Regions from separate parts of the Homo sapiens genome. Here regions 1, 3 and 4 are each linked to region 2. Evidence: fine-mapped expression QTL. A gene starts in region 2. Each other region holds a variant in brackets. All regions are shown on one strand. Distances are between the middles of the regions.

Region 1 (7,956 bases), 70 kb before region 2:
GCCTTCACCAGGCACTGAAATAGCTGGCACCTTGATCTTGGATTTCCAGCCTCCAGAAAGTGAGAAATACATTTTTGTTTAAGCCACCCAGTCTGTGATATTTTTGTCATAGCAGGTGGAACAGACTAAGACAGTAGTCAGGCAATTTTCCCTGCTGAGGGTATATCAGGCTGGGCATCTTGATCAACTCTTAAGAGACAGCGCTGGAATAAAGACAACAATGTCTGGTCATTCCAAGAGGGGCACTACCATGAGCCGCCACTTCCTGAGCAGCTGGCAAAGTCTTAGAATTTTTCCCTGTGGCAGTCACTCAGTCCTCAACATTACCCTACAAAGTACAGCTACTCCCATTTCACAATAGAGCAAGTGGAAGCCCAGAAGCAAAGTGAGGGAGGCCCATGGCCACAAAGCCCAGGAGTGGCAGAGGCAGGATTCGAACCTGGGTGTACTAGATTCCAAACTCAGGCTCTTTTCTATCAAGTGAGCCTCTTGTGTGGGACTGAGCTTAGGTTCAGACTCAGGCTGACCTGGGGAAAATTCACCTTCACCTCTTCCAAACTGTGCCTCTCTTTCATTATCATTTTGTTAAAAGTCCCTTTTATTATTCTGAACCTCAGCTTCCTCATCTGTAAGAGAGGAATGACAGGTTTTTTTGTTTTTGTTTTTGAGACAGAGGCTCCCTCTGTCACCCAGGCTGGAGTGCAGTGGCGGCGATCACTGCTCACTGCAGCCTCAACCTCCTTGGCCCGAGCAATTCTCCCATCTCAGCTTCCTGAGTATCTGGGACTACAGGCACGTACCACTATGCCCGGCTAATTTTTTTTTTATTTTTAGTAGAGACAGGATCTGACTATGTTGCTCAGGCTGGTCTTGAACTCCTGTGCTCAAGCAATCCTTCCGCCTCGGCCTCCTAAAGTGCTGGGATTACAGGCGTGAGGGAATGACAGTTTTTATTGGGCAGTTTCGTGAGAAAATGAAGTGGAAAGGGAACACAATAAGCTCTGTATCCTTTGATTTACCTTGTGTAGAAATTATAAGTGAAGCCAGAGGCTATGAGCCTGAATGGCAGTTCAATCCTGTAAGCCCAGGAGGACTGGAGACAAAGGTGCTTTGAGACTATTTCCCCATATTTCATGATGGCGACACAAATTGGGAAATGCTTACCAGACACCAACGCCAAAGACACTAAGAACAAAAACATTAGCCAGCACGAGCGAAACACCCCAAATTATCAGATTTATATTATTCTGTATCTTTATGATTATTTTCAAATTTATGAAACTGTGTCTTGGCTCCCGTGTTGGTAAGGCATTCCCTTGTGACATCCGATTCAAAGGTTTACTGTTGCCTCTTACAGTCTCCCTTCACTCCAAAACCACGCACTTCTGTGCGCTCACTATGAGAAGCTGTGTTTACTCGCTCCGTGCTCGTCACAGGAAATGGTGCATATTGGGATATATTTATTGCAGAAACTTAGGTCTACTCATCTGTGTGCTAGCAAACCATCAGTCCTGAGTGGTGTACTCGGAAGTCTGTGAACTCGATTTTGGAGGTCGCTGTGTGTGTGTATAAATATAAATGGCCTGACTTCACTTGTTAAAACACTTTCATGCTTTCTCCTCACAAGTCTATTTAAAAAATTTTTGTGATTCCAGCAGATCATTTCCAAAAGGGAGCATGTGTCTTTCTCTCTTGATACACATACAGTGCTTGGCACACTGCCCGCCACGCTGGCTGCTCAGCAAACTCAGCCTTGGTTACGGCTGCTGCCTGGGGCATCCAGCGAACGCAGCGCCAAGAGCAGCAGCATCTACTTCTGGAACAGAGCCTGGCTGGTACTTTTCAGCCCTTCTCGAATGAGCCCAGACGGACCCCAAACTCTGCCCGCTCTTGCTCCTGTGACCCCAGGACACTCCCAGCACCTTGGGCTGATCTCTTTTCCCCACTGCTATTTCTCCGTTAGCCAGATCCCTTCCTGCTTTCCCCAAAGCACCCGGGCCGGCCAGAGTGTTGGTGCGTAAGTGCGGGTAAGCAGGCGGTGCTAGAGTTTTATGTGGTGTGCACTGTGTGGCTGGGGCTGCTGGCTGTGTAGCGACAGGCGTCTGGGCAAGTGGCCTGTCCACTGCAGGGAGAAGTGACAGGGAGGCAGGGCTGTGGTGGGCATTTTGGAGAGCTTCGGAGCCTGGCTGGTCAGGATGAAATCCCGGCCCCGTTGCTCACCGGCAGTGGGGTCTTCGTTGGTTTGGGTTGCTCCCGCATTCACATCCCTGGCAGTTCCCGAGCACACCCACCTCCACCTCTGTGGACAGAAGCTAGATGAATCTACGGCTCAGCCCCTGCCTCACGGGCTCAGCCTGCTCAGTTCCGACACACCTCGATAAGTGCTGTGGGCAGGTGGAGAGTATGATGGGATGACAGGAGTGGCACTCAGCCAGTTTCCTTCACCTGTCAAACGGACGATCGCTACCCACTTACAGCAACTCTGAAGGCTAAGTGAAGTGCGGTCTCACAGGGGCTCAGCCGACGAAACCCACTTTTGGCTGCACTTTGCTTTACTTGGGGGTGGCTGGACTGGCAGGAGGGAGGGCTGTGGGGCTCCATCTGGGGAAGCCCACAAACAAACTTACTCTTTGGGGGGATTCAGGTCCTCAGGTCTTGTCTCAAAGAACTGCAGCACCTCATCACACTGAGAGATGTAGGGGGGCAGCTGGATGAGGGCCTGGAGAAGAGAGACGCAGGTGAGTGCAAAGGAGGAGAGGGGGCTGAGCATGGTGGCACGCGCCTATAATCCCAGCTACTCGGGAGGCTGAGGCAAGATAATTGTTTGAACCTGGGAGGCGGAGGTTGCAGTGAGCTGAGATCGCGCCACTGCACTCCAGACTGGGTGACAGAGCGAGACTGTCTCAAACACACACACATACAAACACAAAAGCAAACCCAAAAAGCAAAGGAAGGAGACGGGTGTTAGGAATGCCATATACCACCAGTGGCTCTCAGACTCGGGAAGGCACCAGAATCACTTGGAGGGCTTATTAAAACACAGATCGTGGAGCCCCACCCGAGTTTCTGATCCAGTAGTTCTGCGGAGGGGGCTGAGGATGTGCATTTCTAAAAAAGTTTCCTGGTGATGCTGCTGGTTTGGAGAACAACACACACACACACACACACACACAATGTATGATATACACGCATATATTATAGGCATATTTGTTCAAGTAATATGTCCATATTTAGGCAAAATCAGACCATACTGTACATGCTATTTAGTAAACCTATGCTTTCACTTAGCTATAAATTGTCAACTTCATGCCATTTCATTATTCTTATTTATTTATGTTGAGACAGGATCTTGCTCTGTCACTCAGGCTGGAGTGCAGTGGTGCAGCCTCGGCTCACCACAACCTCTGCCTCCTGGGTTCAAGCGATTTTTGTGCCCTAGTCTCCTGAGTAGCTGGGATTATAGGCATGTGCTACCATGCCTGGCTAATTTTTTTTTTTTTTGTATTTTTAGTAGAGACAGGGTTTCGGCATGTTGGCCAGGCTGGTCTCGAACTCCCGGCCTCAAGTGATCCACCCACTTCAGCCTCCCAAAGTGCTGGGATTACAGGTGTTTGAGCCACTGCACCTGGCTCATTTCATTATTCTTCTATAACATCATCTATACTGGATACTGGATTTTGTACAGCTGTGTCATACTTTATTCAACTCGTCTACTGGTGAATCTTTAGGTTATTTCCAACATGCTCACATATATGTCTTAACTCACGAATCTGAAGCATTAAAGTGAAGGGACTGTTTTATGATTTGGATAGAGGTTCAAAGTCTCCAAGTTGATGAGGGGTTGAAACAGATCTTCCACTGGCCAAATTCCACATTAATCTGCCCCAGTGACTCACTGGCTGTGTAGCCCTCCACAATGCTGGTTTATTTACTAACCTCCACAAAGCTGGTTTATCTACTAACAGGTATTCATTCAATGATTCAATGAGCAAAAATTTTCTTTGTGCTCAGCACTGCACTAGTTTCTGTGCCAAATACAACAGAAGTGCAGGGTACACTCTGCTCGTTGAAGGATCCGAAACTCAGACATGGCCATCATGAATAAACAGCTCAGTTTAACAAATATTTACTTAAGCCTCCTTTGGCCCGGGCCCTGGACCAGGGTAATGAGGATGCAGATCTGAGGGTGGTTCAGGTGGTTCACGCATACATTTTGTTGCACACACCTGTGCAGAGAACACGTGTGCATATGCATGAATTGCACAGGTGATTCTGCCAGCCAAGCTGCCCAAGCAGTGCGTGCTCTGCATGAGGCTGGACTCTGTTCTCTCCTAGAGGGCCTCAGTTCCCTGGTGCCTCTCATGAGCCTTCTCACCATGCTGAGCCTGAGTCTCTGGGGTCTGGGGATAGAAGAGATGTGTCTTGCATTTCCTTTCTTTCTTT[CT/C]TTTTTTTTTTTTGAGACAGAGTCTTGCTCTGTCACCAGGCTGGAGTGCTGTGGTGCTATCTTAGCACACTGCAACCTCTGCCTCCCGGGTTCAAGTGATTCCCCAGCCTCAGCCTCCCTAGTAGCTGGGATTACAGGCGCACGCCACCCCACCCGGCTAATTTTTTATATTTTAGTAGAGATGGGGTTTCACCATGTTGGCCAGGATAGTCTCGATCTCCTGACCTCGTGATCCACCCACCTCGGCTCCCAAAGTGCTGGGATTACAGGCGTGAGCCACTGCGCCCGGCCTGTGTCTTGCATTTTCTATATAACCAGCCCTTAATAGCTCACCACCCAACTCCCAAAGTGATGTGCCGACGCTGCAGCAGTACTGGGCTCTCGTGGACCAACGGAGAGATGAATGGAGGCCTCCAGTGTGGCACCTTTTACAGGGCTTTGGGGATATGTTGACCCTACACAATTATTTCTCCCATTAAAAAAATTAAATTGTGGTAAAATACACACAGTAAAAAGCTTACCATCTTACCCATTTTCAAGTGTACCGTACGGTGCATTAAGTATTTAATGCATTCACACTGCTGTGCTACCAGCACCGCCATCCATCCACAGAACTCTATTCATCTTGCAAAACTGAAACTCTGTACCCATTAAACAACAACTACCCTTCCACCCTCCCCCAGCAACCACCATTCTACTTCTGTCTCTAGGGATTGATGATTCCAGGTAGCTCATATAAGTGGAATCATACAGTGTTTGTCTTTTTGAGTCTGGCTGATGTCATTTAGCATGCTCATCCATTCAAGGTTCATGCTTGCAGCAGGCGTAAACACTTCCTTCCTTTTAAAGGCTGAGTAATATTCCATTGTCTGGATACACCGCATTTTGCTTATCATTCACCTGTCGATGGACACTTGGGTTGCCAACCCTACATTACTTTGAATCAGGCTCTAACTTTAAGTCCCCGAGCTGCAATCTGCTCCAGACTCAAAATGGATAAACACATCATGAGGGACGTGGATGGTCTAGTAGGGCACCTTCCCTGGTCACTGTCCACCCTTCCACCCTTCTGAGGGGTGACTAAAGGGCTCACCGATTTTTAAAATTAGCCTTTAAGTAGCTCCTGCTCTGCAGCAAATCCTTAAGGACTGTTTCCAGAGTTGAATCAGGGAGTCCCAGAGACAGGAGCAGGCCCTTCCCTCCCTCACCTCCTGTTTCTGGTCCCCCTTCTTTTTCTGGTTCCAAGCAGTGAGTGGTCATTCTCCTGGCCTGGATGAGCTGCTGTCTGCTCCCCCCTCCCCATGGGCCTCTTTTTCCTCTGAAATCCTGCAGCCCTTGCAGTTGGAGCCACATAATGAAGGAGCTGATTATATGCTGGACTGTGGTGTGTCCTGGCTGCTTTGTGTGCAAATATCTTGTGGCTTCCCCCCAAGACTACAATAACAGCACTCCTCGACCTTGGCTTAGCACTGGGAGGCTCCTGAAACGTGTTCATCTGTGTCACTTTATGTAACCCTGGGAAGGCTGGCCCATTTAAGAGATGGGGAAATGGAGGCTCTGTTGAGGTGGCTTGGTCTAGAGAGTCCAGGAAAGGCTGACTGCAAACCTCTACCTTAAATCCACAAAAGGCGGCAGGGTGGCAGCTGTTCCTCCTTCACCTTCCCTACGTGCCTAGACAGTGCTGGGGAGACCCTAAATAACACGAGGCAACAGCCCGGAGCTGGCCATGTGTCTCTGCTAGAGGAGACTTGGGTGGGTGTGGGGAATGGCCCCTGGAGGTGGTCACTGTCTCTGCCTGGAGGGGGCCTCCCAGGATGGGCAGAGGCCCCAAATGGACCAGAAGGGGAAGGGACAACGAGGCCCATGGAAACCTCCTGATGATGCCAAGTTCTCTTCTGGTTTTGAGCTATGCCTAGGAAGTAAAAGCCAAACCAAACCCCTAAACCATAAAAGAAGTCAAGTTACTAATAAAAGGCAGGGCTGAATGCTTTGATGTTGGCCCATTTCATTTGGGATGGACTTGGCTACCAGTAAAAAATGACCCGGGGCTGGAGAAACCATTCTGCTTCTGAAAGACTCCAGGATAGTCCTAAGTCCTGTCAGTAGTGACAAAGAACCACAGCTCCAGCAAACTCAGTCCTGTTCTGGAACGGATCCTGGCGCTTTGGACAGATGTGGCTGATGCAGGCACGAGAGAGGAGAGCAAGTCCTGCTTGCAGAGGGTAACAATAAAGGTCAGAGAGAACCAGCTCCTGACTCTGGCCTCGTCACTTCCTGGCTGTGAGATTCTGGCCAAGTCTCACTGCCTCTCTGAGCCTCAGTCTACTCATCTGTAAAGCGGAAATAAAGAACACCCATCTTGGAGGGCTGTGCTATAGAATAAGTGAGGAAGTGGTTGTATGGTTTCCATCATATATTAGCTGCTTGATGGACACTGGATAACCCTGTTGGCTCTCTATACTGTCCCAGGTACAAGAATATAGTGTTTCCAAAGGCGATTTCAGAGGCAGCCAGATGATTATGTTAAATGACAATATCTTGGCTAGGGAGAAGGTTCATGTTTTCTCAATTCTCTTTCAACCCTCTTTAATTTAAAAAAGAATGCCCCAGAGAAGTAACACTTGTCTAACTTGCTTCCTGAGAGCAGGACGGGCTCTGCAGAGCCTCCGGTAGGCAGGTAACAGCAGTTAGCCAGATTTAAAAACGTTTTCTGTTGTTGTTGTTGTTTTATTGTTTTTATTTTTATGGCAGGCACATGATACCCATTTGTTTTGTTTTGTTTGTTTGCTTGTTTTTGAGACAGGGTCTGGCTCTGTGGCCCAGGCTGTAGCACGGGGTGGGATCTCAGCTCACTGCAGTCTCCACCTCCTGGGCTCGAGATCCTCCCACCTCAGCCTCCTGAGTAGCTGGGGTTACAGGCGTGCACCACCACGCCTGGCTAATTTTTGTCTTTTTAGTAGAAACAGGGTTTCACCACGTTGCCCAGGCCGGTCTCAAACTGCTGGGCTCAAGCGATCCACCTGCCTCGGCCTTCCAAAGTGTTGGGATTACAGGCGTGAGCTGATACCAGTTTTATGTTATGGTTGTGATATAAAGTTTTCTCGAAGACATATTGTTTTCAGAAGTTCAAAAAGTCAGGAAGCCCTCAGCACAGTAGGCAGCAAGCCAGTCTCATAATCTGAAGAAGTTCAAAAAGTGAGTTGAAGAAAAATATGAATAATAATATAGGTGGGTGGTGTATGACAGAATTCCAGAAGGGAAGTCTCAAGTGACTGGAGCCTGGTAAATACTACTGTTATGTTGCCCATAGTTTAAAATACTACAGCATGGGCACACACACTCACAAGTGTGTATGTTTGCATGTGTGTTCCATTTAAGCTACACCGTATGATGCTTAGTTACTACCTGAAGTCCCCTCATTGAGAATGAACACTGGTGCAAGTGAAAGACTCTAATCAGAAGTCCACACTTCAGAAAAGGCTGCTTCAGGGCTTTAGCTGTCTTCATTGTGG
Region 2 (7,956 bases):
ATCAATGCCATAGTAAGCGACAGTTAAAACGAACTGGAGCTAGCTGGATCGACATAGATCTCAAAAGTGCTTATTTATAGTTTTAAAACATTCACGACAATACAAGATTTTAGGGAATGTTAAAAAGGGAAAAACATTAAAAGGTCCATGGGCTGTGGTGGGAAGGGGATTGATGGCAAATGGGCGTGGGGGATCTTTCTGGGGATGATGGAAATGTTATAATACTGCATTGTGGTGACGGTTGCATAGCTCTGCAAATTTACTTTAAAAATAAGTGAATTGCACACTTACAATGGGTGAATTTTATGGTATGTAAATTATACCTCAAGAAAGCTGTTAAAAAAAATCCTATCTATTAGTCTATTTTTTATAAGTGCATGGGAATGATCAACATCAAATGCAGGATAGTGGTTTTATGGGGGAGGGGCAGCATCGGGGAGGGCGTCCGGGGGGTTTGCATCTGCGATGCTTTATTTCTTAAAAATAAAAACAAAAAAGTTTTGAAACAAATTGGCAAAATATAGAGATGTGAAGACTTGGAAGGTATATAGATATAGATAGCTATTTTATTCTATGTATCTATATATGTGCAGAATATTGTATTACTATATTGAAAATATACCCATTTGAAAGGGACCCAGTGCCCCGCTCAGGTTACCGAGGACACTTTGACCACTGTTATTCTTGCTGCCATAAATATTCCGACCATCCTGCTCCTCTTAACATTTAAAGATCTTGAGACAGAGCAGGCCAGCATCTCCAGGCTCCTGCTGCCGAGACACTAATGCTTCTGTACATCCCTCTCCAGTGCGGGAAATGGGGTGATCCAAATAAAACCCACAAATCCTACCTGGAGCTCTTCTTCCTCCCCCCAAGCTGAAGACAAGCTAGCTGGGGAGGGTCTCCCAGGATGTCACCCTCAAAAGCCCCTCTCCATTCATCCCCAAGCCCTCGGGCTCTAGTGCAGGAAAGATGCTGGCAGAGAAAGGCAGGAGCTCCCCAAATCTTCATCTCCCTGCTTCCAACAGAGGGCAGTGGCTCCAGGGAAAGGCTCTCCAAACAATATCATGGTTCATTGTCATCAGCCTCTCAGGATCTCACAGGCACCTGGAGCTTCTGGCCCTGCATTCTCCAGACCTGGCCTGTGGCTCTGCCCCTGGGCCCATGGATGATGTCTCTGCCTGCGGGTGACTGAGGCTGGGGCTGGAGAGGACGCCATTCTGATCATGGAGAAGGCACCATTTCAGAGGGAGCAGGTGGCCCAGCCCTGATGGGCAGCCCTGAACTCCGGGTGCAGTTCTCCAATGACATCTACAGCACCTGTGACCCTGTCCCTCACAGGCAAGTGAGTGATGAGCAGGTAGTGGCCGAGATGGCTGCAAATGGGGAGAGGGGTAGTGGGAAATTAGGGGGCGTAGTGAAGAGGACTCTCAAAAACTGACTTTATAGTCTATGGCGCAGTGGCTGGGGTGGGAATGTGTGTGGTGCTGCCCCCTAGAGGACATGCAGCAATCAATGCCTGGAGGCCTTTTGGGTGTCACAATTGGGAAGGGGGATAACTAGCTGGGTAGAAGCCAGGGAAGCTGCTAAACATCCTGCAATCCACAGGACAGCCCTGAAACAAAGAATGATCCAGCCCCAAATGTCAAAAGTGTTGAGTTTGAGAAACTCTGCCCTTGAGGGATGTAGCAGTATTTACACAGAAGCTAGAGCTCAGAGAGGCAAACCAACCAGTCCGAGGTCACACAGCAGAAAAGTTCAACTCCCCAGCTGATGCTGTCTCTCCAGGGTGGCTTCAGAAAAAGGGATACCAAATGGGAGTCAAAGTCCAGGCCTGCCAATAGCTGCCTTCATGCCCGCTCTTTCCAGATTGTGTGAGGGGTTGGGGTGGAGCTTGGGAACAGCAGCGGTCGCCCACCACAGGGATCTGTTTCCATTGGGTTTGGCCCCCCTGCCATCAAGGCAGTAAATGTTCTCTGTTCCTGTGGATGACTCAGGCTTCAGTTCAGCCCATTGCCCCTCCTCATCTGATGAACCCAGAAGCCTGGGCTAGAAGGGAGAGGGCCTCTTGAATCACATGAGTGACTAAAGCCACATGCAGAAAAACAAGTTCTTGATGAATCCCCCTACCATGTGACTTTGGCATGTTCCCAATCAGTGACAAGATACCTCAGGACAGGCAGGCAGGGAGCTATGCCTTTAGGGCATTTAGGAATGCCCTAAGGCAGCCTGTCATGCGGCTGCTACCTCTAGGAAATGGACACCACCATCCCCATTACACAGATGAAAAAACTGAGGCTGAGGTGACACAGCTACAACCTGGGAGGCCAAGATCTGAATCCCAATCTATGTTTTAACATAGAAACTTGTCTCAGGGGGCCCCCAAAAAGTGGCTGAAAGCTTCAAAAGACGGTTCTCAAAGCGCAAAACCTTCAAAAAACTGGCAAGGATGGAGCTGACACAGCAGAGAATGAAAAGCTTCCAGGTTTTCACTAATGATAAGAGAGATTTCCCAGTTTTTCAGAGGACTTTGCTCAGAGAAACTATAGGGGTACCGGATGTGGGAAGTGGTGTGGTCCTTTTGGGGTCCAGCGGGCCTGGATCTACATCCCTGCTTGGCTCTTGACTGTGACCTTAGGCGTGGGACCTCACTTTGCTGAGCCCTGGTTTCCTCATCTGTCAAATGGGCTTAAGGCCCTCTGCCTGATATGGGCGTGATAGGAGAGGCCAGAAGAGGGCGCGTGGACGATGATGGCCGGGCCTCGGTGGCAGTATCTATTCTCGTTTTTGCCAGCTCACAGACCTGGTGGGAGGTGGCATGGAGAATTCCAGACTTCCTCCAGTTGCCATGTTGGTGAAAACTGTCTTCATGCCAAAGAGGCAAACTCACTTACACGCTAACAGGCTCAAACAAGAAACTAAGATTTGGCAGCATTTGAAAACAGTTAACAAAAAATAAAAAAAGGAAGGAAAAAAAAAAGACAATTTAGCTCAGCTCTGGAATCAAGGGAAACTTCACTCTATATAAAGATGCCACAGGTCCAGGAAATAGCTTCCCACCGCCTGGCTAAGGGCTGAATAACTGGCTGCCCAGCCAATAACAATACAGACTCACACAGCACACCCTTTCTTGTGGAGAGCGCGGAGTGGGTTCCCGGCTATCTCCTTTCAGAATTTCACAGGCTATTCACGGAAGGCATGCAGATCTACTTTGTAAGAATTAGTTCTTAAAAAAAAAAGATCTGAAGACGACTTCCAGGGAGGCCAAGGAGCTTAATTTAGCCAGCCAACGCCCTTTTCTATTCATTGTTCTATACTTCTTTGTTAGGATTTTTTCCCTCCCTCTTACTCTTTTTCCCTTCCTGGTTAACTTCTCTGCAGCCAGGCTCCGCCACTGCCCACTTCTCACCGCCAGAGACACTATAGCCCCCTTCCCTGCTGTAATGAGGCCCTCCCCAAGGCCTCATGTGGGCCCATCACCCCACATCCCCTTTATCTCCACCTAGAACCTGCGAGGTGGTCCCAGGGCCTCCTGAATCTGCAGACGTGTCCCCTAGGTTGCTGCGGAAGCCACTTTCCACCTGCAGGTCACCGTCAGCCCCAGGCACCCCTGCTGGAGGGAGGGAAGCCCGAATGCAGCTCTATGTTCCAGGACCTGCAACCTCTGAGCCTCAGCCTTCCTATCTGCAAAACGACGCTACTGTCCCATTTTCTCAAGTCCTTGCCAGCTCCAAACAAGATTCCCATGTTCCAGAGGGAGATGCCAGGAGAAAACTTTCGTACATTTTAAAACAGAAGTTACTGGAGAGAGGGGGCAGGGGATGTTTTTAACCCTTTAAAGGCGTAGCCACTCAAATGATCCATTCCCAGAGATCTCCTCCATCGCCCAGGCCGGCTCTTGCCAAAGAACGGAGTCAAATTCGGCGAACCCTAGAGGGGCTACCTGTGGCTGGGGACTGCGGGTCTGCGCGCCTCTGGACAAGGAGGGGCAAGGCGGGCGGCCTGAGAACAGGCACTTCTGTCTCTCCCGCTTTCTGTCTCAGACCCCTCACCGGCTGGAGCCAGACTTTTCCACAGATGAGCAGGACGGGAGTTGGGGGGACACGGAGAAGACAGAAAGGGGTAGAGGAGCCGCAGGGAGGCGAGTAGGGGGGCGAGGCGGGAGGAAGGGATGGAGGGGGAGAACGAGGCAAAAGCGGGGAGGGGAGGGGAGGGAGGGAGGAGGAGTCGGGAGGGACCCGGGCAGCGCCGCCGCAGAGCCGAGGGGAGAGCAGGGGAGGAGGGGACGGGAAGCGCTGGAGGCAGAAGTTTTCCAAGCCGGGGGCCCTCGGTCGCCCCCGACGGGGCGCGGGCTCAAGGGGGCGTGGGGGCCGCGCCGCACTCACATAATGCTTGTTGGGCACCCGCCGCTTCTGCACGTCTAGCACCTTCACCTCCACGATGCTGCGCCGCGGCGGCATGGCCGCTCCTCCGCCCGCAGCGGGCCGAGCGCGGGTGCGGGTGGCGCGGGGTGCAGGGAGCGCTGGGGGCGCGCCGCCGCGGGCAGGGAACCTGGAGCTGAGCGCAATCGCAGCCGGGGCCGAGCACGAGCCGCCGCCGCCACCGCCGCCGCCCTTCGCTCGGCGCGCACTCCAGCCGGGCCCAGCCGCCGCCGCCCGCCCCCGGCCCGCCCCCCGCACCGCCCCCCGCACCGCCCCCCGCACCGCCCCCCGCGCCGCCGGCCCGCCCCCCTTAAAGGGCCCGGCCCCGACCCCCGCCCACCGCGCGCGAACCCCGCCGGCCACGTCCGGCCCCCGCCCGGCCTTTGTCCCGGTGCTGAGCCGCCGCGCCGGGGGAGGGGACTGGACTGACCCCGTCGCCCGTTCACTGATTGACGTATCGATTCATTCCAGCACTCTCGCTCCGGCAGCCGCCATCCACCGCCAGTTTGGAGAGCCGGACACCCGGGTTCGAATCCCGGCTTTGCCGCTTTTCCACTCTGTGCCCTCGGCAAGTTGCTTAACCTCTCTGGGTTGGGTCTCTTCGTCTATAATATGAGCCTAGTAGTACAAGCACCATGTTTGTCTTTTTGTGTCTGGCTTATTTCACTCGGCATAATGTCCTCAAGGCTCATCCATGTTGTAGCACGTGTCAGTAGTACCGCCTGCCTGCCGGTGCTGCGCCCGGGATTAAGTGCATGTGAAGCCATTCCGCAGTGCAGTCCATGGTATGAGTGCTGGCGTTCCTAAAGCCACCCCAAGCCCTGGTGATTCAGGAGGAGCAAGAGACCCGTGACCAGGTTCCCCCAGCCTCAGTCTGGGACATGGGGAGTGAGGGAGAGAAAAACTGCAACAAATGCGCATACGTGCAATGTAATTGCCATGGAAGCAACAAAAGGGGATAAAAGGGTGGTGACTATGTGTGAGGGGCAGCTGGGTGCTTGTTAGCAAGGCCATCGATTTCCAGTTGCGGAGCACTTAACTGCTCGCTGGGCCCCGTGGCCCCTGCTTTTCACAAATGCTGTCTTTGCATCCTCAGGCAGACTCTAGGAGGAAAAGGTGTTTTTACAGAGGACGGCCTCCAGACATTTGGACATTTCCAATGAGGCCTGAGGACCCTCTGACTTGGGAACTGTACTTCAGAAGAATGTGCCTTACAGGAATTACATCAGTGAAGGTCCAGAGTCAGGGAGCCGGTGGATGGAGCCCGTCACTGCCTGGCTCTAGGTGGATCTCACACGTTGAAGCTGCCGTGGCTGGGGCAGCTCCTCGTTTCTTCATCTAGTGCCTCCTAGCACTGGCTGGGCACTGAGTCACTTTCAGGAGATGTTGGCTGAATGAATGGATAAATGAATATATAATGCATGGATGGGAGGTTTAGGCTCCTGGCCAGTGTTTTCACAGCCAGTAAGTGGGGGCTCTTTTCAACAAACCGTACGACTCTTCTCCATGCCACGACAGAGCTACTTCCCACCCCGGTCCAGGATCAGCCTTTGGAAAAGGGTGGGCTTATCCAGGGTAGGACGGCTCTCAGCCTCGGCCAGGCCACGTGGATGATTTGGGCTGATTCACTTTGGATCCGCCCCTCCATTTGCTCCTCTGACTTCCTTGCCAGACTTTACCATCCTGCTCCAGCCCCAGAGGCTGGCCTGTGTGGATTTCACTGACAGCTCTCTGTCCTGGTCTTCCTGTTTGGCTTGGCCAGTGGAAGGGCCTGGCAGGAGATTGAGGGCAAGAGGAGAGAGGGAGGTCTGGGTATTTAATCCCTAAGCCCCTCCTCCCCGATTGTTTTTACCAAAGGTGCCCTTTCTCACATGGTCTCTCTCAGGGTTCCTGAAGCCACTTTTCTGCTCAGGACAGTGACAGTCTTGCTGTTGCAAGCCCTGGGTACTACGCCATCCTCGGTGCTTCCTTAGCCCCGCCCACACCCGTATACATTGACCCTTTACTAAACTGTCTTCATGGACCCAGCTTGAGGGTGGCATCTGTTCGGTGCCAGGACCCTCACTCATGTAATTCCTGTAAGGCACATTCTTCTGAAGTACAGTCCCAAGCCAGAGGGTCCTGAGGCCTCATTGGAAATGTCCAAAGAAGTGAAGGTCTGCTTTTCCGTCCCTGCCACATCGTGCATTGCCTTATTAGGAGCCAAGCCTTCCTAAGAAGGCAGAAGCTAGAGGCCCTCTCTGAATCAGCCAGCTTCCTGGGTTTTTCCGGAGAGGCAGAGAGACCTGCCCCCAGCCACACCATGGGTGGCAGAGGTGGGTCCTGCTGGCTGTGTCCGTCTCCTCTGTCTGGGGAAGACAAAGGTCCCCCCACAACCACCAGTAGCAGAAGATGCTATCCCTGCATCTTTACGTATCTTTCCTTTGTTTTACTTTTTTATTGTAGTAAAAAATACATAACATAAAATTTAACATTTCAACCATGTTTAAAGCATACAGTTGAGTGGCATTAAGTACACTCACATTGTTGTGCAACTGTCACCACCATCCCTCTCCAGAACTTTCTCATCTTCCTAAACTGGAGCTCTGTCCCTATTAAACACTGAGTCCCCCCCCACTGCCCCCCAACCTCCTCCAGGCCTTGGCAACCATTGTTCTACTTTCCATCTCTATGAGTTTGACTATGCTAGGTACTTCATATGAGTGGAAACACACAATGTTTGTCTTTTTGTGTCTGGCTTATTTCACTCGGCATAATGTCCTCAAAGCTCATCCATGTTGTAGCATGTGTCAGAATTTCCTTTTTATGGCTGAATAATATTCCATTATATGTATATAGCACTTTTTCTTTATCCATTCATCTGTCAACAGTCACTTGGGTTGTTTTCATCTTTTGGCTATTCTGAATAATGCTGCTGTGAACATTGGTATAAAAATATCTGTTCAAGTCCCTGGTTTCAATTCTTTTGTGCATATACCAAGAAATGGAATTGCTGGATCATGTGATACTTCTATGTTTAATTTTTTTTTGAGGAGCCCCTAAACTGTCTTCCACAGGGGCTGTGGCATTTCGCATTCCCTCAGCAATGCACAAAGGTTCCAATTTCTCTACATCCTTGCCAACACTTGTTATTATCTGTTTTGTTTGTTTGTTTTGTTTTGTTTTGTTTTGTTTGAGAAAGAGTCTTGCTCTGTCTCCCAGGCTGGAGTGCAGTGACGCAATCTCAGCTCACTGTAACCCCTGCCTCCTGGGTTCAAGCAGTTCTCCTGTCTCAGCCTCCCGAGTAGCTGGGACTATAGGCGCCCGCCATGCCTGGCTAATTTTTGTATTTTTAGTAGAGATGGGGTTTCACCCTATTGGTCAGGCTGGTCTCAAACTCCTGACCTCAGGTGATCCACCCCCCTCAACCTCCCAAAGTGCTGGGATTACAGGCATGAGCCACCGCCCCCGGCCTTGTTTTGTTTTTTAAGAGACAGGGTCTCATCCTGTCACCCAGGCTGGAGTGCAGTGATTTTGATCATGGCTTACTGCAGCC
Region 3 (7,956 bases), 41 kb before region 2:
AATTTCTAAAATTTAATTTTTAATTGACACATAATAATTGTATATATTCATGGGGTACATTAGTAATGTTGATTCACATAATATGTAGTGATCAGATCAGCATATTTACACATTCATCATCTCAAACATGTATCATTTATTTGTGTTAGAAATATTCAATGTTTTCTTTCCAGCTATCTGAAACTATATAATACGCTATTGTTAACTATAGTCATCCCACAGTACTATAAAACACTAGAACTGGCCAGGCGCGGTGGCTCACACCTGTAACCCCAGCACTCTGAGAGGCCGAGGTGGGTGGATGGCCTGAGGTCAGGAGATCGAGACCAGCCTGACTAACAGTGAAACCCCCTCTCCACTAAAAATACAAAAAAATTAGCTGGGCGTGGTGGCGGGCACCTGTAATCCCAGCTACTAGGGAGACTGAGGCAGGAGAATTGCTTGAACCTGGGAGGTGGAGGTTGCAGCGAGCCGAGACCGCGCCATTGCACTACAGCCTGGACAACAAGAGCAAAACTCTGTCTCAAAACAAAAACAAAACCAAAAACACTCAAAACACTAGAACTTATTCCTCCTATTTAGCTGTGATTTTGTTTCCTTTTACAAATCTCTCCCTATCTCCCCACTTCCCCCTACCCTCCCCAGCCTCTAGTTATCCTCTGTGCTACTTTTCACTTTATGAGATCAACTTTTTTAGCTTCCACATGTAAGTGAGAACTTTATGTTCCTGGCTTATTTCACTTAACATAATGTCCTCCAGTGGCATCTATGTTGCTGCAAATGACAGGATTTCCTTATTTTTGATGGCTGAATAGTATTCAATTGTGTATGCATACCACATTTTCTTTTTCTTTTTCTTTTCTTTTCTTTATTTTGAGACAGAATTTCGCTCTTGTTGCCCAGGCTGGAGTGCAATGGCACGATCTTGGCTCACTGCAGCCTCCGCCTCCTGGGTTCAAGCGATTCTCCTGCCTCAGCCTCCCCGGTAGCTGAGATTACAGGCATGGGTCACCACACCTGGCTAATTTTTGTATTTTTAGTACAGACGGGGTTTCACCATCTTGGTCAGGCTAGTCTTGAACTCCTGACCTCAGGTGATCCACCTGCCCCGGCCTCCCAAAGTGCTGGGATTACAGGCATGAGCCACTGTGCCCGGCCCATACCACAATTTCTTTATCCATTCATCTGCTGATGGGTACTTAGGCTGATTCCACACCTTGGCTGCTGTGACTAGAGCTGCAATCAACATGGGATGTATTATCTCTTAGATATACTGATTTCCTTTCCTTTGGATAAATGCCTAGTGGTGGGATTGCTGAATCATATGGAAGTTCTCTTTGCAGTGTTTTGAGGAACCTCTACATTGTTTCCCATGGTGGCTATACTAGTTTACGTTCCCACCAACTGTGTGTAAGAGTTCCCTTTTCTCTACATCCTTGCCAGTATTTTAAACATGTGGTTTTATTTGTGGTTTTGAGTCATTGTCCCCTGTTCTGTTGCCTGGTGAGGTGGAAATGCTTGGTCCACTGTCATTCAGAGACAGGTGAGGCCACAGTGGGGACTTGCTGGAAAAGGCAGCCTTCTTTTTGTGAATCCAAGAGCTCTTCAATGCCAGCACATAGTAGATGCTCAATAAAAACGGGCTGAACTTGATGTCGATGAAGAGAGGTTGTGAGTGGCGAGGACAAGGGGCTATGCTCTGTACTTTCCAGTCAATTTTTCTGAGAACCTAAAACTTCTCTAAAAACTAAAGTTTACTGATTAAAAAAAAATTGGCTGAACCAATGAACGCAACTGAGCAAACGCTTTGGGAGGCAACTTCAGGAGATGTTTGCTAAGTAACTCTGAGGAATAATATTCACATTACTAATACTAAATAATAATTAGTAATCACAACTAACACGTATATAACAGTTCACAGTGAACATGTCCTCTCATATACGATTTCATGTGACCTTGACAGTAACTCTGTGACATAAATGTTACATTCCCCTTGTCACAGATGAGGTAACTGAGAAGCAGAGAGGGCAGTGAACTTGCCTGAAGTCACACAGCTAAGTGGTGTGTCCAGCCAGTCCATGCATCTTTGTCTAAATTCCATTCTTTTTGCCTAAGACCACTCTTTGAGGCAGCTTCAGAGTGTCACGTGAACACAAAAGTCAGCCTGAGATGAGGTAAGTTTAATATTCTGTGCACATGTGAACAGCATGCTTTCTTTTCGAAAGCAGAGCCATTAATCAGTCTCAGCTGTGGAGTATGTTAGAGATTTATAGGTTTTTGCCTAACACTATCTACTTTTTCCCTTCTCAATTTTATTTGTTAAGACAATGAAACACCATTAAAGGGAACTTTTTTTTTTTTAAAGAATGCACCAGTAATCTGTCCACCCTAACATGACTATTTCCAATCTCCGGGTTCCTTTGGAGTCCCTGCCTGAATGTACATGTCAGCCAATGAGTCCCTGCCACTGCTGTGTTTTTCAGTCCTCAGAGGGGTCTCTACTGCCTGGTCTTAAGAAGCTGCTCTCTTGCCCTTTGTCCTGACTTGATTTTACCCAGATCAGCATGGCCCAAGGAGCTGAAAGGCCTCCCTTTGTTTTATTTGTTGGAGGTGGCAGATCTGGGTTTAAATACTGCATAGTCTAACCACAGACATGACTGCTGGGGACCCAACAGCCCTGGGGTTCAATCCTGATGCTTCCTCATGCCAGCTGTGTGTCTTTGGCCAGACACTTCATCCCTGAGCCTGTTTGGCCGTCTGCAGGATGAGGGACGCAGCCTGCTCCGCGGCGGGGCTGGGTAAATGAGTGCTATGTGGAAACTCTGGGGAGCACACCAGATGCTCAGCAAGAAATCCCCGCTCCTTACACTCTGCCCATATTGAATATGTTATTTTGAAAGTTATTTGGGGATAACTTTTAGTAGTCTGTAAGGCTGTGTGGTTTTTTTTTTTTAATCGTGTTAAATATACACAAGAGAAGATTTACCATTTCAACCACACTTGGGTGTACAGTTCAGTGGCATTCAGCACATTCACAATGTTGTGTAAACATCACCACCATCCATCTCTGGAACCTCTTCATCATCCAAAACTGAAACTGTGACTCCCCCCTCTCCCTCCCCCTGGGCCCTGGCAACCACTACTCTGCTTTCTGCCTCTATGAATCTGACTGCTGTAGCTACCTCCAATAAGTGGATGACACAGTACTTGCCCTTTTGGGACTGGCATATTTCACTTAGCATAAGGTCCTCAAGCTCCATCCATTTTATAGCATGTGGCAGAATTTCCTTCTTTTTTAAGGCTGAATAATATTTGATTGTGAGGCTGTGTTTTAAGGTTGGCAAAAAACCCCTCAGGACTGCCCGGGTGGCCCCGTGGCTGTAGCAGGGCTGTCTGCTGGCACTTTCTGCCATCATGGAGGTGTTCTACATCTTGCTGTCCAATCCAGTGGCCACTAGCCTCCTGGTAGCTATTGAGCAGGTGAAATGCTGCTCCTGCAACTCAGGAGCTCAATTTAAAAATTTTCTTTAATTGACTTGAATTTACATTTAAATACCCTCATGTGACGAGCAGCTGCCATCCCGGACAGTGCAGGGCTGGACTATCACAATATCCTCCTATTTAAACCACATCCAATTTTATTTCGTTTTCTTCATCACTGTGTCCAATGTCAACGGCCATCTGTGAGTTTGCTAGTTGCAAAGACTAGGACTCAGGATAAGATGCTGGGGGATTAGAGCCCTGCAAGCTTTCCTTGCCGAGCTGGTCTTGGTGTGTCCAGGTTTACGGCCACCAATTGCATCTATGCAGAGAACTGTAACACTAGGCATCCAAAGGCCTTGAAGTAGGTTCTCCAAGGGACCAGGCCCAGGCTGTCTGCAGCAGCAGGAGCAGAGGCATGCTCCTCAAAGCCTAACCCATGTCATCCTTGGTAATGAGAAAACCCACTACCCGCGCTCCCCCCAGATAACAAAAGAAGTGGCGCTCAGGGTGAGGAGGACTGGAAACTGAAGAGGAAGATGAGTCATTTGGGGAGTAGGAAGGGAGAAGGAGTCACATCAAGTTGCCACATCACAGGCTTCCAAGAAGAAAGAGAGAACACTCCATCAGCAGTTTTCAAGACATCAGCTTGCGGTAGAGGGAATGCGAGACACGCTGTCCAAAGAACACGCCATGGAAGCTGGCCACCACACGTGGTTTGCGTTAGCAGCAGCCATTGAGGCTGGACTTGGGAGGGGTTTACCCCCTCAATATCACAAAACCCCCAAGTCCCAGCGGAGCCGGAGCAGGAAGTGGAGAAAGGCCTGGGGCCATCATGCGCAGCTGCAGGCTGGCAGAAAGCCACAAGGTCCTGGGGCAGGGCTTTCAGGGCCCTGAACACAACGGTGTCCCTGGGCCTAGTCTACCATCTGTGGTTTGTTGTCTTTGAGGATTCTGGCCCCTCCACGAGCTGGTCTAAATATCAATGTGTCTGGTGTCCTGATGGACGTGC[T/C]GCACGGAGGCTGCCACCACCTCCGGTCTGTCCGCTTCTCTCCATACTTACTGCTCCCCCTAAGTCCAGGCCTGTATTTTCTCAGTTCAACCCCCTTACTACTGTTGGCCCTCTCTTCTGCCCCACTACCTCCTCACTGGTACACGGTAAGCACCTGTTAGATATTTGTGCAAAGAACAAATGAGTAAATGAATGAATGAATGAATGAAAAAACAAATGAGAAAAAGTGGTTAACTGGTTTGGTCAGCCACTCTCTGGGAAAGGAAAAATTACATACCAGGTGGCAGCAACAGGGCCTGGACCTGAGTTTAGCTGCAACTGCCCAAGATAATCATGCCTCTTTCTATTTTAGAAATAAAGAATTGCTAACTGTGTGGAAAAAGGCAACTACGGTATTTTCCCAGTGACACACCTTCCATATGGTAATAGCTTTTAGTGGGAAGGGAAAACTATTCCATTTAAGTATGCACAACACGTTGGAGGCATACTCCAATTCCAGAAGATAATGTCTGGGAGAAAAAGTGTGTCTGAGGATGGAGTAAAGGCAGTATTTGGATAAATATGGTTGGTGGAGTCTTGGGCCAGATGTTGGCTGGGATCTTGCTGGGAAGGCTTCCCGGCCAGGCAATGCCTGCCTAGGGAGTGAAAACTCTTCAGTTCTGCCATCCCCTAGACCTGTCCTCAGAAAAGCTGGAAGAAAACCCTCCCTTCCCTTTGGCCTCTGCAGTGGAGCATGGGGGCTTATGGGCAGATAGTCTTAAAAAGTACACTTGGGGCTGTTAAACTCCCAAGAGGGCCGAGGTGGAAGGACCAGGGTCTTAGAAGGAGACAGGTCAAGGCCGGGCGCAGTGGCTCACGCCTGTAATCCCAGCACTTTGGGAGGCTGAGGCGGGTGGATTGCTTGAGGCCAGGAGTTCAATACTGGCCTGACCAACACGGCAAAACCCCATCTCTACTAAAAATACAAAAATTAGCCGGGCATGGTAGCGCGTGCCTGTAATCCCAGCTACTCCGGAGGCTGAGGTGGGGGAATCGTTTGAACCCGGGAAGCGGAGGTGGCCGTGAGCCGAGATCGCGCCACTGCACTCCAGAGCGAGACTCCATCTTAAAAAAAAAAAAAAAAAAAAAAAAAAAGAAGGGGATGGGTCAGTCCTAGCTCAATGGAAACTGGAAACAAGCGGTTTTTGCTGCATGACTTGGGACAGTCTCTGGAGAGACAAAGGCATAGATGGAGATGCAGCCTCCACCTGTGATTTGAGGCGTCCAAGAACTGCTCGAGCCGTAAGCCCCTGAGCCTAGCAGCAACGCTCTGGCACAGCGTGCGGAGCAGGAGAGGAGCCAGAAAAGCTTCTCTGGATCTCTGCAGCATGAACTTCCCCGTAGGGAGTGTTCCTTCTTACAGATGAGGCTGGCATTTCTCCCGAGGGCTCCTTCACGGGCAGAGTGACTCAGCTGGTTCTGTGCCCCCCTGCCAATGTTGGAATTCTGGAAGATGCCCAGCTAAGACTCCTGCTCCATTGCACCTCTGCACCTTTGCACATGAGGTGTCCTCTGCATGCAATGCCCTCCCCCATTCGGTGGAGGGGCCACTCCTTATTCATTGTCAAGACCCTGCTCAGATGTCACCTCCTCCAGCAAGTGAGCCCTGTCTGAGCTCCCTGGCTAGGAGGGAGGTCCCTCTGTGAACACCTGGATTTCTCTCTATCTGAAAGAACATGTGCCTATTCCCACTACACTGGAAGCTTATGGAAAGCAGAGATCCATCTGGGTCCCTTGTGGCAGCTCGAGGTCTAGGTTAGCAAATGTTTAACTGCGCCTTCTGTGAGGGAAGCCCTGGCTCCAGTGATGACCATGACCCTTGGCCTGGGGGACACAATGAACCAGTGGGAACTCAGAAGACAAAGGTTGCACGGTACAGTGTAGAGGGGCTCATGTTTTGGTCAGAACTGCCCTCTGTGGATAGACTCTGCCTGTATCTTAGAGGGAGGAGCCAAATGGGCCTTAAAAAGGGGCAGCCATAGGCAGGACTCTATGTGGGTAAATCTATCTTTCAATAGGCAGATTGAAAGGCAATCCCGGGGCCCAAGGAGGCAGGGAGGTTAGGAGTGCAAGTTTCAGATCCAGCCACACCTGGGCTTGAATCCCAGCCATGCTGCTTTCTGGGCATGTGACTCTGTCTTTCTGAGCTTCAGTTTCCCCATCTGTGAAATGGATACAATACTGACCTCATGCCTGTGAGGACAGAATGAGATGGCATATAAGATGGGCATCTGGCACATTCCAGTTAGTGACTGCCGATATTGTTACTATGTGGCTCAACCCAGCCACATTTCTGCTAGGCACTACCCTCAGCTCTCTGGGCACTCCAGTCATCCCCAGTGCTCTGCCTGGATGCCAATTTCCTTTGCCACACTGATGGACTCCCCAGAGTAGTCCCAAGCCAGGGCAGAAAGGGAGAATCAGAGAGGCTGGGTGACCATCCCAAGGCCGCACAGCTGGTAAGACAGAGGGAAGGACCCGACACCAGGTATTCTTATTTCAAGCCCAGGGCTCTATCCCATTTCCTGCACCCTCAGGTGAATGAGACGTGTGGTCAGATGTCAAGTAAGAGCATCAGGCATCACTATCAGGCCCTTCTAAGGTAAGCAAGTCAGGAAACCAAGTTGGAAGGTGAATCTTCATAAAGGGGAACTTCCAGCCGGGCGCGGTGGCTCAGGCCTGTAATCCCAGCACTTTGGGAGGCCGAGGTGGGTGGGTGACTTGAGTCCAGGAGTTTGAGACCAGTCGGGGCAACAAAGCAAGACTCCGTCTCTACAAAAATTTAAAAAATTAGTCAGGCGTGGTGGCACACACCTGTAGTCTCAGCTACTCGGGAGGCTAAGGTGGGAGGATCACTTGAACCTAGGAGTTTGGGGCTGCAAGTGAGCTGTGATGGCGCCACTGCACTCCAGCCTGAGTGACAAAGTGAGACCCTGTCTCTACTTTTTTTTTTTTTTGAGACGGAGTTTCGCTCTTGTTGCCTAAGCTGGAGTGCAGTGCACGATCTTGGCTTACTGTAACCTCTGCCTCCCGGGTTCAAATGATTCTCCTGCCTCAGCCTCCTGAGTAGCTGGGATTACAGGTGCCCACAACCACGCCCAGCTAGTTTTTGTATTTTTAGTAGAGACGGGGTTTCACTATCTTGGCCAGGCTGGTATCGAACTCCTGACCTTGTGATCCGCCCACCTCGGCCTCCCAAAGTGCTGGGATTACAGGCGTGAGCCACTGCGCCCGGCCTCTACTTTTTTTTTTTTTTTTTTTAAAAAGGACCTTTTCATAGAGACTGTGAGTCTCTCTCTCTCTCTCTCTTTTTTTTTTTTTTTTTTTTTTTTTTTTTTGATATAGGGTCTTGCTCTGTTGCCTAGGCTAGAGTGCAGTGGCACAATCTCAGCTCACTGCAGCCTCGACCTGCTAGGCTCAAGGGA
Region 4 (7,956 bases), 28 kb before region 2:
ATTTGGAAATGATTTCCAGATTACCCTCCATTCTGGAGCAGTTAACAGGCACCCTTTCTCTTATGGAGGAAATATGAAATATCAAAGCATAAAGCAACAAAGCACATTATTTGTGTCTCAAAAGTAATGGATGTCATTTTTTTTTTTTGAGATGGAGTTTTGCTCTTGTTGCCCAGGCTGGAGTGCAATGGCACGATCTCGGCTCACTGCAACCTCTGCCTCCCGGGTTCAAGCAATTCTCCTGCCTCAGCCTTCCGAGTAGCTGGGATTACAGGCACCCGTCACCGCACCTGGCTAATGTTTGTATTTTTCGTAGAGACGGGGTTTCACCATGTTGGCCGGGCTGGTCTCAAACTTCTAACCTCGAGTGATCCACCCACCTCCGCCTCCCAAAGTGCTGGGATTACAGGTGTGAGCCACCACGCCCAGCCATGGATGTCATTTTTAAGTCTGGGAAATTAAAAAAATTCTGGACTCTAAAGCTGTAGTGGAATGTAAGTCCAATTAAACTCTTTCCGATCCTGCAGCTCACCAGAGACCTCAAATCCTTACCTGGAGGTCAAAAAACTTGCTGTAGCGCCGGTAAATGGCCTCGGTGGAGCCGCTGGACCACGTGACCCGGATGATGTAGACCTGCGGGAGCAACAGAGGAGATGGGTGTTAACACCAGAAGGTGGTCTCCCAATCTCTGGGACCCAGGGGGAGCACAAGACTCAGAGTCAGAAAGACGTGGGTTTCAGCCTTAGCTCTGCCAATGACTGGCTGGACAAGTTGCTTGCTGTAAGACTCATCTCCCTCCTCAATAAAATGAGTGTAATAACCCCCAACAGAGTTGTGCAAAGGATGAATGACATCAAGTATGGGGATGCAGTGGCACCACATCAGCTCAGGAGAAGCTGCTGTTTTCGGCATTGCCAGGATTCCTCACTACCCGCTCAGTTCAGTGAGAGACAGGCTGGCTATCTTGCCAGTCATTCCTAAAACCTTGACTTTCATCAGGAGAAGTCACGGAGACGTGCAGCTCTTGGCCATCTTATATCTTCCACAGGCCAGCCCATCATGCTGTCTCCACCGACGAGGACCTAGGCCAAGTTATTTTTTCCCCGAGTCCCAGTTTCTCCTGTGAATGGGGCTAACAGCACCTGCTTCCTCTGCCTCCTCTGCCTCCTCTGCCTCCCAGGATAGATGTGAGGTGCTGATGAAATTAAGGATGAAGGACCATTTTATAAACCAGTGGGCTGTGCTTCCAACCTGTGTCACACGTCACGGCACGCACAGAAAACAATACATTGATAACAAGCCCGGGCAAACTGAGGTGACTATTAGAGGTCAGAGGTGCCTGGCTGGGGCCTTTGGTGGCCCCGGACACACCAGGTAGACACCTAAGGGCTAAGGGATCAGCATACCTGTGACCCATTCCTGGACTGCATAAACTATCTGTTGCTATAGGGTAGTTGTGACAATTAAAATATATGCACAAGTGAAAGCTGTTTGGAAACAAAGAAATGTCATAGAAACACAAGGCGCTCAGTGCTGTTAGAAGCCCTGGGGTTTCACAGGCAGTGTCCCTGTCCTCCATGAGGTGACGGTTAGAAGGAGAGACAATGCATACATAAGTGAAGATGACTGACTCCTGGAATCCTCCTTCCCTACCTTCAGCTCACCCACTTGGATACGGGGTTGGGGGGGGGGGCGCACATTCTCTGTTCATGGTGATTGGTTGAAGGGAGAACATGTGACTTGAGCTGGGCCAATCACAGCCAGTAGGAGTCTGTCCTGGGACTTTTTTGGTTTGGTTTCTTTTTGGAGAGGGAGTCTAGCTCTGTCACCCAGGCTGGAGTGCAGTGACACAATCTCGGCTCACTGCCTCCCGGGTTCAAGAGATTCTCGTGCTTTAGCCTCCCGAGTAGCTAGGATTACAGGCGAGCGCTACCGTGCCCGGCTAATTTTTGTATTTTTAGTAGAGACGGGGTTTTGTCATGTTGCTCAGGCTGGTCTCGAACTCTTGACCTCAAGTGATCCACCTATGTCGGCCTCCCAAAGTGTTGGGATTACATGCTTGAGCCACCGCGCCCGGCCCGCCCTGGGACTTTTGCTCCAACTCTGGAGAAAGCCAAGCTCTTCTCCTGAGGTTGACAGGCTGTCAAGATGTGGAGCTGCTGGGGGCTACCCATCCTCACTGGGGGTGGGGGGGAGCCTGCCTGAGAAAGGAGCCACCATCCCGATGACACAGTCTAAGCTTACATCCAGCTCTGCCTGAAGCTAAATTTATTCCTGGACTGTCCAGTTTCCTGGGCCAATAATTATGTCTTGGGCCACATCCACTGTCTTGAATAACTTTTGTGGCCAGTTCAAGTTGGGTTTCTGACCCACGTAATCCAGTCCAGGTTGATACCGGAAGTGGGCAGGAGAGAGATCTCTGAAGCCTGGAGCCACCACAGTGTAACTGATGGTCATGTAGGATTTAGACAGCAGGAGAGGAAGGCAGTGGCTGTGGGTAGAGGGGAATGAGGGTAGAACAAAGACCAGCTCAGGGTGAAGCCACACTGTGCCTGGCAGCGGTTTCCACAGTGGTTTTAGCCAGAGTCTCTTTTCAAATGAGTTCTTAGGAGAACATTCACATTCCAAACAGAAAAAGATAGAACAACTTCAGGGGCTGGGGCCAGACACCAGTGTGAATATCATGGACTTATAGGAGAAGGTTCTTCAGGTGAGAAGAGACGAAAAATGTTAGGATAAATCAGGACAAGGTTGGAGGTGACCTTGAATGCCACGCTAAGGAGTTCACCTGGCATGGCCTCATCAAACCCAACACAGATTATATTTCAAAACATGGCAGAAATGGGGGAGCTTGGGCTCTAGAGTCAAGAAGCTCTGGACTCACACAATTTCCTAACTCCTGGAGCCTCAGCTTTCTTATCTGGTAAAATGGGGTCATCAAGCATACAGAGTTGTGATTAGCACAAGAGGAAAAGCTCTGAGCACCTTGCCAGGAAGACAGAAAAAGTTCATGAAACCTCAGCACCTTGCTCTCAGACCACCCAATGCCTACCCCATCCCTGCTCACAAAAACAGGCTCCTTTGACACCAAGGATTTGGGCATCCAGCCCACCCTTCTTCCTTGTTTGCGCTCCCCGTTCCTAGGTAACTCATGGAGCCAGGGAAGGGGCCACGGCATCCTTTAGGAGGTAAGAGTCAGTCATCATCTCAGAAAGGCGACTTTGTGATGTGAAAAAACGCTCAACAGTCCTGATGTTTTACTTAACAAGAAGACTTCAAATCTGTTTCTTAGCTTTCCACCCTGCTTCACCGAGACTCCAGCATGGAGATTTTGAATGGTTTCCATTCATTCACTCATTCAGTCTTCAACATCTATTAAGCACCGACTGCATGCCAGGCCCTCTGCTAGGGGTTGAGATACTATGGGGAGCAAGGCAGACCCAGACCCTGCCCTTGTTAAGTGGAGATGGGCAATAAACCAGCAAACCTGCCGACATGCTGGGCAGGACCCCGAAGTCTGCATGAGGGTGGTAGGTGGAGGGGCTGGCTACTTGGATAAGGGGGCCTTGGAAGGGAAGCCTATCTGAGGAGGCAACCTTTGAACTGAGATCTGAAGGGTGAGGAGCTGGTCGAGAGCTGAGGAAAGGGCGTACAGGGAAAAAGAAAAGTGGGAACGAAGATGTGGCAGCAGGAAAATGCTCGCCTGTGTGAGGAACAGGAGAGTATGACAGCTGACAGTGCTGCGGGAGGAAGGGGCTGAGCGGGGGAGGAGGCAGCAGCTGATGACGAGGGGCTTGCAGGCCACAGAGAAGCGTCTGGATTTCATTCTACTGAAGAGCTTGAAGGGGTGGGGGAGGCGTGCGACAGGATCCAGGGTACACGTTTAAAAATATCCATAGGTATCCCTCCAGCTGCTGTGTGGAAACGGCTTGAAGAGGGGCAGGGACACCAGTAAGGCATCTTTTGCACCACTGACAGGAAGTTAGAGCTGGAGCGGACCAAAGAATGCAGCTCATTGAAGGGCTGCACCTGCCAGATGGGTAAACTGAGGGTCAGAAAGGGAAAATACTGTACCAAAGGTGCCCACCACTGGGGATGCTTAAGCTAGGTTTGAATGACTGTCAAGGACACTGCCAACAGGGATTAAAAAACAAGGAAAAATTGTCAAAGAATGGATTTTTTTCTTAAAACCAACAAAAAGCACACTCCCATAGATGGAAAAAAAAATTCTGCTTACACAATTCATCCTTGATCTCTTGTTTACAATTTTTAAAGTTCTGAACATACAGT[G/A]CAAGGACTCTGCAGCAAGCCTAATTGGTTTATTGGAATCAACCCCTGAACACAACGTGATGTCTGCATTTTTAGGCAGAGACCTAATTTTTTAACGAGAGCTGCCCTAGCGTAGGGCTTTGTCCCCGTCCTGGGTTTGGGGGCTGGTGAGAGAGCACACACCCTGGGTCACAGAGCCAGCTCTGCTGCTAGAGAAACTCACAAGGCATTCACCTCTCTGGCCACCCACCCTTCTCTCTAAAACAAGGACAATAATCTCCCTTGAGGGGTAAGCCACAATAGCTAACGGAGATGGGGCCAACACCTGGCACGCACTAGGAGTGCAACGTTCAGCTTCCCTCACAGTGGTCATCCCATGTTCCTGCTTGTCTAGTACCTTCCCCTCCCCTCCTTTTGGTAACAGAATCCTGACTTCCCACGGGGAATCCTTCCTCTGGTCTTCATGAGGGGAGTGGGCATGTCTCCCTCCCAGGCCCAGCCAACCACAGCCCTGCTGATGAATGATGGCTCAGGGATGGGCACAAGACGGATGAGAACCAATTCCAGGACTTTTGATGGCAGTCTCAGGGGACAGACCATTTTGCCCACTCAGTGGCTGCTGGGAGAACCTACACCAGGAATTTCCCATGGAAAGCGCCTGTCACACAGAAGAAAGCAGAGCCAGAGGGAGAGAGGAGGGCTCAGACCCCGTGGCAACATTTGAACCCCTGGATCCAGCCTGAATCCGGGACATTTCCCAGATGCAAGACAAAACAGTCCTTTTCTTGTTCACACCAGTTTGATTTGGTGTCTGTTACTTGCAACCAGTGCAATCCTAACACAGTAGACCTTTCCTTTTTTACATCCCCAACCCAGGTAATACTTAGTAGCTTGGTGCCAAGGAATTAAAGACTTCCTCACAGTGGCAGTATTCACAAGAGGCCAAAGATGGAAACAACCCAAGTGTCCATTGATGGATGCGTGCATAAAGAAAATGTGGTTTAGACATAAAATGGGACATCATTCAGCTCTAAAAAGAGAAAATTCCGACACATGCTACCCTATGAATGAACCTTGAGGATATTAGGCTATGTGAAATAAGCCGGTCACAATAGAACAAATACTGTATGATTACAGGAGGTACCTGGAGTAGTCAAATTTATAGACATAGAAAGGAGGATGGTGGTTGCCAGAATGGGTAGAATGGGGAGTGGTTATTTTTCATTCTTCTGAGATGAGGTCTCGCTCTGTCACCCAGGGTGGAGTATGGTGGTGTGATCATAGCTCACTGCAACTTCAAATTCCTGGACTCAAGCAATCCTCCCACCTCAGCCTCCGAAGTAGCTGGGACTACAGGCATGTGCCATTATGCCTGGTTAATTTTATTATTATTATTTTTTGTAGAGACAGGGTCTTGCTTTGTTGCCTAGGCTGTTATCGAACTCCTGGCTCGAGTGATCTTCCCACCTCAGTATCTCAAAGTATTGGGATTACAGCCGTGAGCCACCATGCCTGGCTGGGAGTTGTTGTTTAATGGGTGCAGAGTTTCAGTCTAGGGAGATGAAAAAAGTTCTGGCGATGGATGGTGGTGATGGTTGCTAAGAAATGGCTGAAATGTTAAGTTTTATGTTGTGTGTGTTACCACGATTTTTTTTTTTTTTTTGAGATGGAGTCTTGCCCTATCACCCAGGCTGGAGTGCAGTGGGGTGATCTCGGCTCACCGCAACCTCTGCCTCCCGGGTTCAAGCAATTCTCTGCCTCAGCCTCCCAAGCAGCTGGGATTACAGGCGCCTGCCACCATGCTCGGCTAATTTTTTGTATTTTTAGTAGAGACGGGGTTTCACTATCTTGGCCAGGCTGGTCTTGAACTCCTGACCTCGTGATCCACCCACCTCGGCCTCCCAAAGTGCTGGGATTACAGGCATGAGCCACCGCACCTGGCCAAAGAAAAATTTTTTAAAGCAGATTTCCTGCAGAGATTTACATACTGCATGTCATGTGCCCTGGAAATGACTAAAACTTTCTCCATGGCACAGCCTTCAAAACATGAGCTGCACATCTGAGAAACAACTTCTATGCAGAATACATTTCTTGAAGTCTTGGTTGTAAGGAAACAACCAACCAGATTACAAGATGGACAAAACTTAAAGAGACACTTCATGCAAGAGGACATATGGAGGGCAAGGAAGCACATGAAATATGGTCACTGCCACTAACGAGGCAAAGTGAAACCAGGAGGAGATGCCACTACCCATCTGTCGGAATGGCTACGATTAAAAAATAGCGACAATAACAAGTGCTGATGAAAATGCACGGCAACTGGAACCCTCATGCATTGCTGGTGGGGAAGCAAAATGCCACAGCCACTCTGGGAAGATCCTCAGTGGGTGCTGAACCACCAGGTGAAAGGCTGTTGAACAGGACACTCACACGGTATCAAAGTATAACCCCATGATTGCTTTCCCAGCCAGGGGAAAAATGTGTAACTCTACAACTTAACCAGGTTACCAAACCTAGCCTCATGGATAGAGGGACAATCCAGTTACTGTGTGGCCCTCCAGGTGATGCAATGTGAAGTATACACAATCTGCTGTTGGTATTGTTGCCAACAATGTTTAACTTGAGCTCGAGCTCTTGACCTAGGTTCTAATTTACAACAAATATAGGAGGCAGAGGAACAAGATAAATGACATCATAAGGAAGCAGACAGATCTGGAATGGGCAATGTTCTACAAGTCAACTAGCAGGGCACAGCTCAGATGCTACTGCCTCCAGAAAGCCCTCTGTGACCGCTCCCTGCCCACCAGTATGAGGTTGGGTGCCCCTGCTATAGGACTCCTTAGCACCCACTTTCCCATCACAAAGCCAATGAACGCTTTACTGAAATTGCTCAAGTGTCTGATTTCCTGCTGGGTTCTAAGTTTCACGCGAGCAAGGACCTGGCCTGTCTTGTTAATGGACTGCTGTATGCCCAGCACTGGGCAGGGTGGAAAAATCTAGGCTTCGTGAATAAATGGGGAAGAAAATGAGATGCCAGGAGGCCAAGCCCTCACAGAGAGGAGTGCTTCTCCTTGGCAGGCCTTTGGTCTGTAGAAAGGGACCCTGGCCATGTTGCTGAGGTGGTCCTGCCCCCTTGCTTTTCCTCTCTGTCCCCTGTGCTGCTTCACCACAATCTGCAAACACCCCCGCCCCTTGGGAGCAACATGTTTTGGGGGAGCAGCTGGGACTGCTTAAGGAACAAGGAAGCACAGAAACCACAACTGGGGTTAGAGAGTCACGGAGGTTTTCTTCTGTTCCCAGACAGGATTTGAGCCGGAATCATCTACCCTTTAAATCTCTTCTTACACAATCTCAGCAGCAGGGCCTGTGTGATCTAACCAAGTCCAGACTCTCCAACCTGATTGCAAACCCAGTTTCACCAGGAACAGAAGTCCCGGGTTTCCTCACTTCCTCTAAGTCAGCGAGAAGCCAAACTGGTGGTGAAGGGAGGGTGGGAGGAATTGGGGTGGGGTGTGCTGAGCCAGGATCCTTTTGCAGGTGGGTAGATGGCTGAACTTGGTCTCTTCCAAATCCCCGAGCCAGCAGGCCAGGCTAACACTTCCCATGTTTTCCCAGCAAAGGACGGAGGCTCAGAAGTACAGTGCCTACAGTTGCACAGCTATGACGTGCAGAGCAGGGACTCTAACC

Direction of the effects. Positions count from the first base shown, and alleles are read on the strand shown. Sizes are in standard deviations (SD) of each study's normalised expression. Not every link is listed here.
For the expression in fibroblasts of the gene that starts at base 4,633 in region 2, C is the low allele of the variant in region 3 and T is the other (small effect, 0.39 SD a copy in GTEx).
For the expression in esophagus muscle of the gene that starts at base 4,633 in region 2, allele G in region 4 goes with a lower level than allele A (moderate effect, 0.40 SD a copy in GTEx).

What was found.
Region 1: its variant is fine-mapped to the expression of SH3PXD2B in whole blood (INTERVAL, PIP above 0.99).
Region 3: its variant is fine-mapped to the expression of SH3PXD2B in fibroblasts (GTEx, PIP 0.98).
Region 4: its variant is fine-mapped to the expression of SH3PXD2B in esophagus muscle (GTEx, PIP above 0.99). The same link has a PIP of 0.9 or more in gastroesophageal junction, lung, sigmoid colon, skeletal muscle and subcutaneous fat.

What each region holds. Positions count from the first base shown.
Region 1 is chr5:172,379,409-172,387,364 of GRCh38, forward strand. It overlaps SH3PXD2B (SH3 and PX domains 2B), which reads right to left. Exons shown (of 13, transcript NM_001017995.3): 5 at 2,628-2,719. Among named protein-coding and RNA genes, the nearest start is that of SH3PXD2B, 71 kb to the right of the region's middle. The variant CT/C (reference allele first, on the strand shown) is at 4,444.
Region 2 is chr5:172,449,893-172,457,848 of GRCh38, forward strand. SH3PXD2B (SH3 and PX domains 2B) reads right to left here and starts at 4,633. Exons shown (of 13, transcript NM_001017995.3): 1 at 4,386-4,633. The coding sequence starts at 4,460. RefSeq lists an enhancer at 3,599-4,120.
Region 3 is chr5:172,408,858-172,416,813 of GRCh38, forward strand. The region is part of intron 2 of SH3PXD2B (SH3 and PX domains 2B); the gene reads right to left. Among named protein-coding and RNA genes, the nearest start is that of SH3PXD2B, 42 kb to the right of the region's middle. RefSeq lists an enhancer at 3,844-4,345. The variant T/C (reference allele first, on the strand shown) is at 4,493.
Region 4 is chr5:172,421,864-172,429,819 of GRCh38, forward strand. It overlaps SH3PXD2B (SH3 and PX domains 2B), which reads right to left. Exons shown (of 13, transcript NM_001017995.3): 2 at 553-633. Among named protein-coding and RNA genes, the nearest start is that of SH3PXD2B, 29 kb to the right of the region's middle. The variant G/A (reference allele first, on the strand shown) is at 4,291.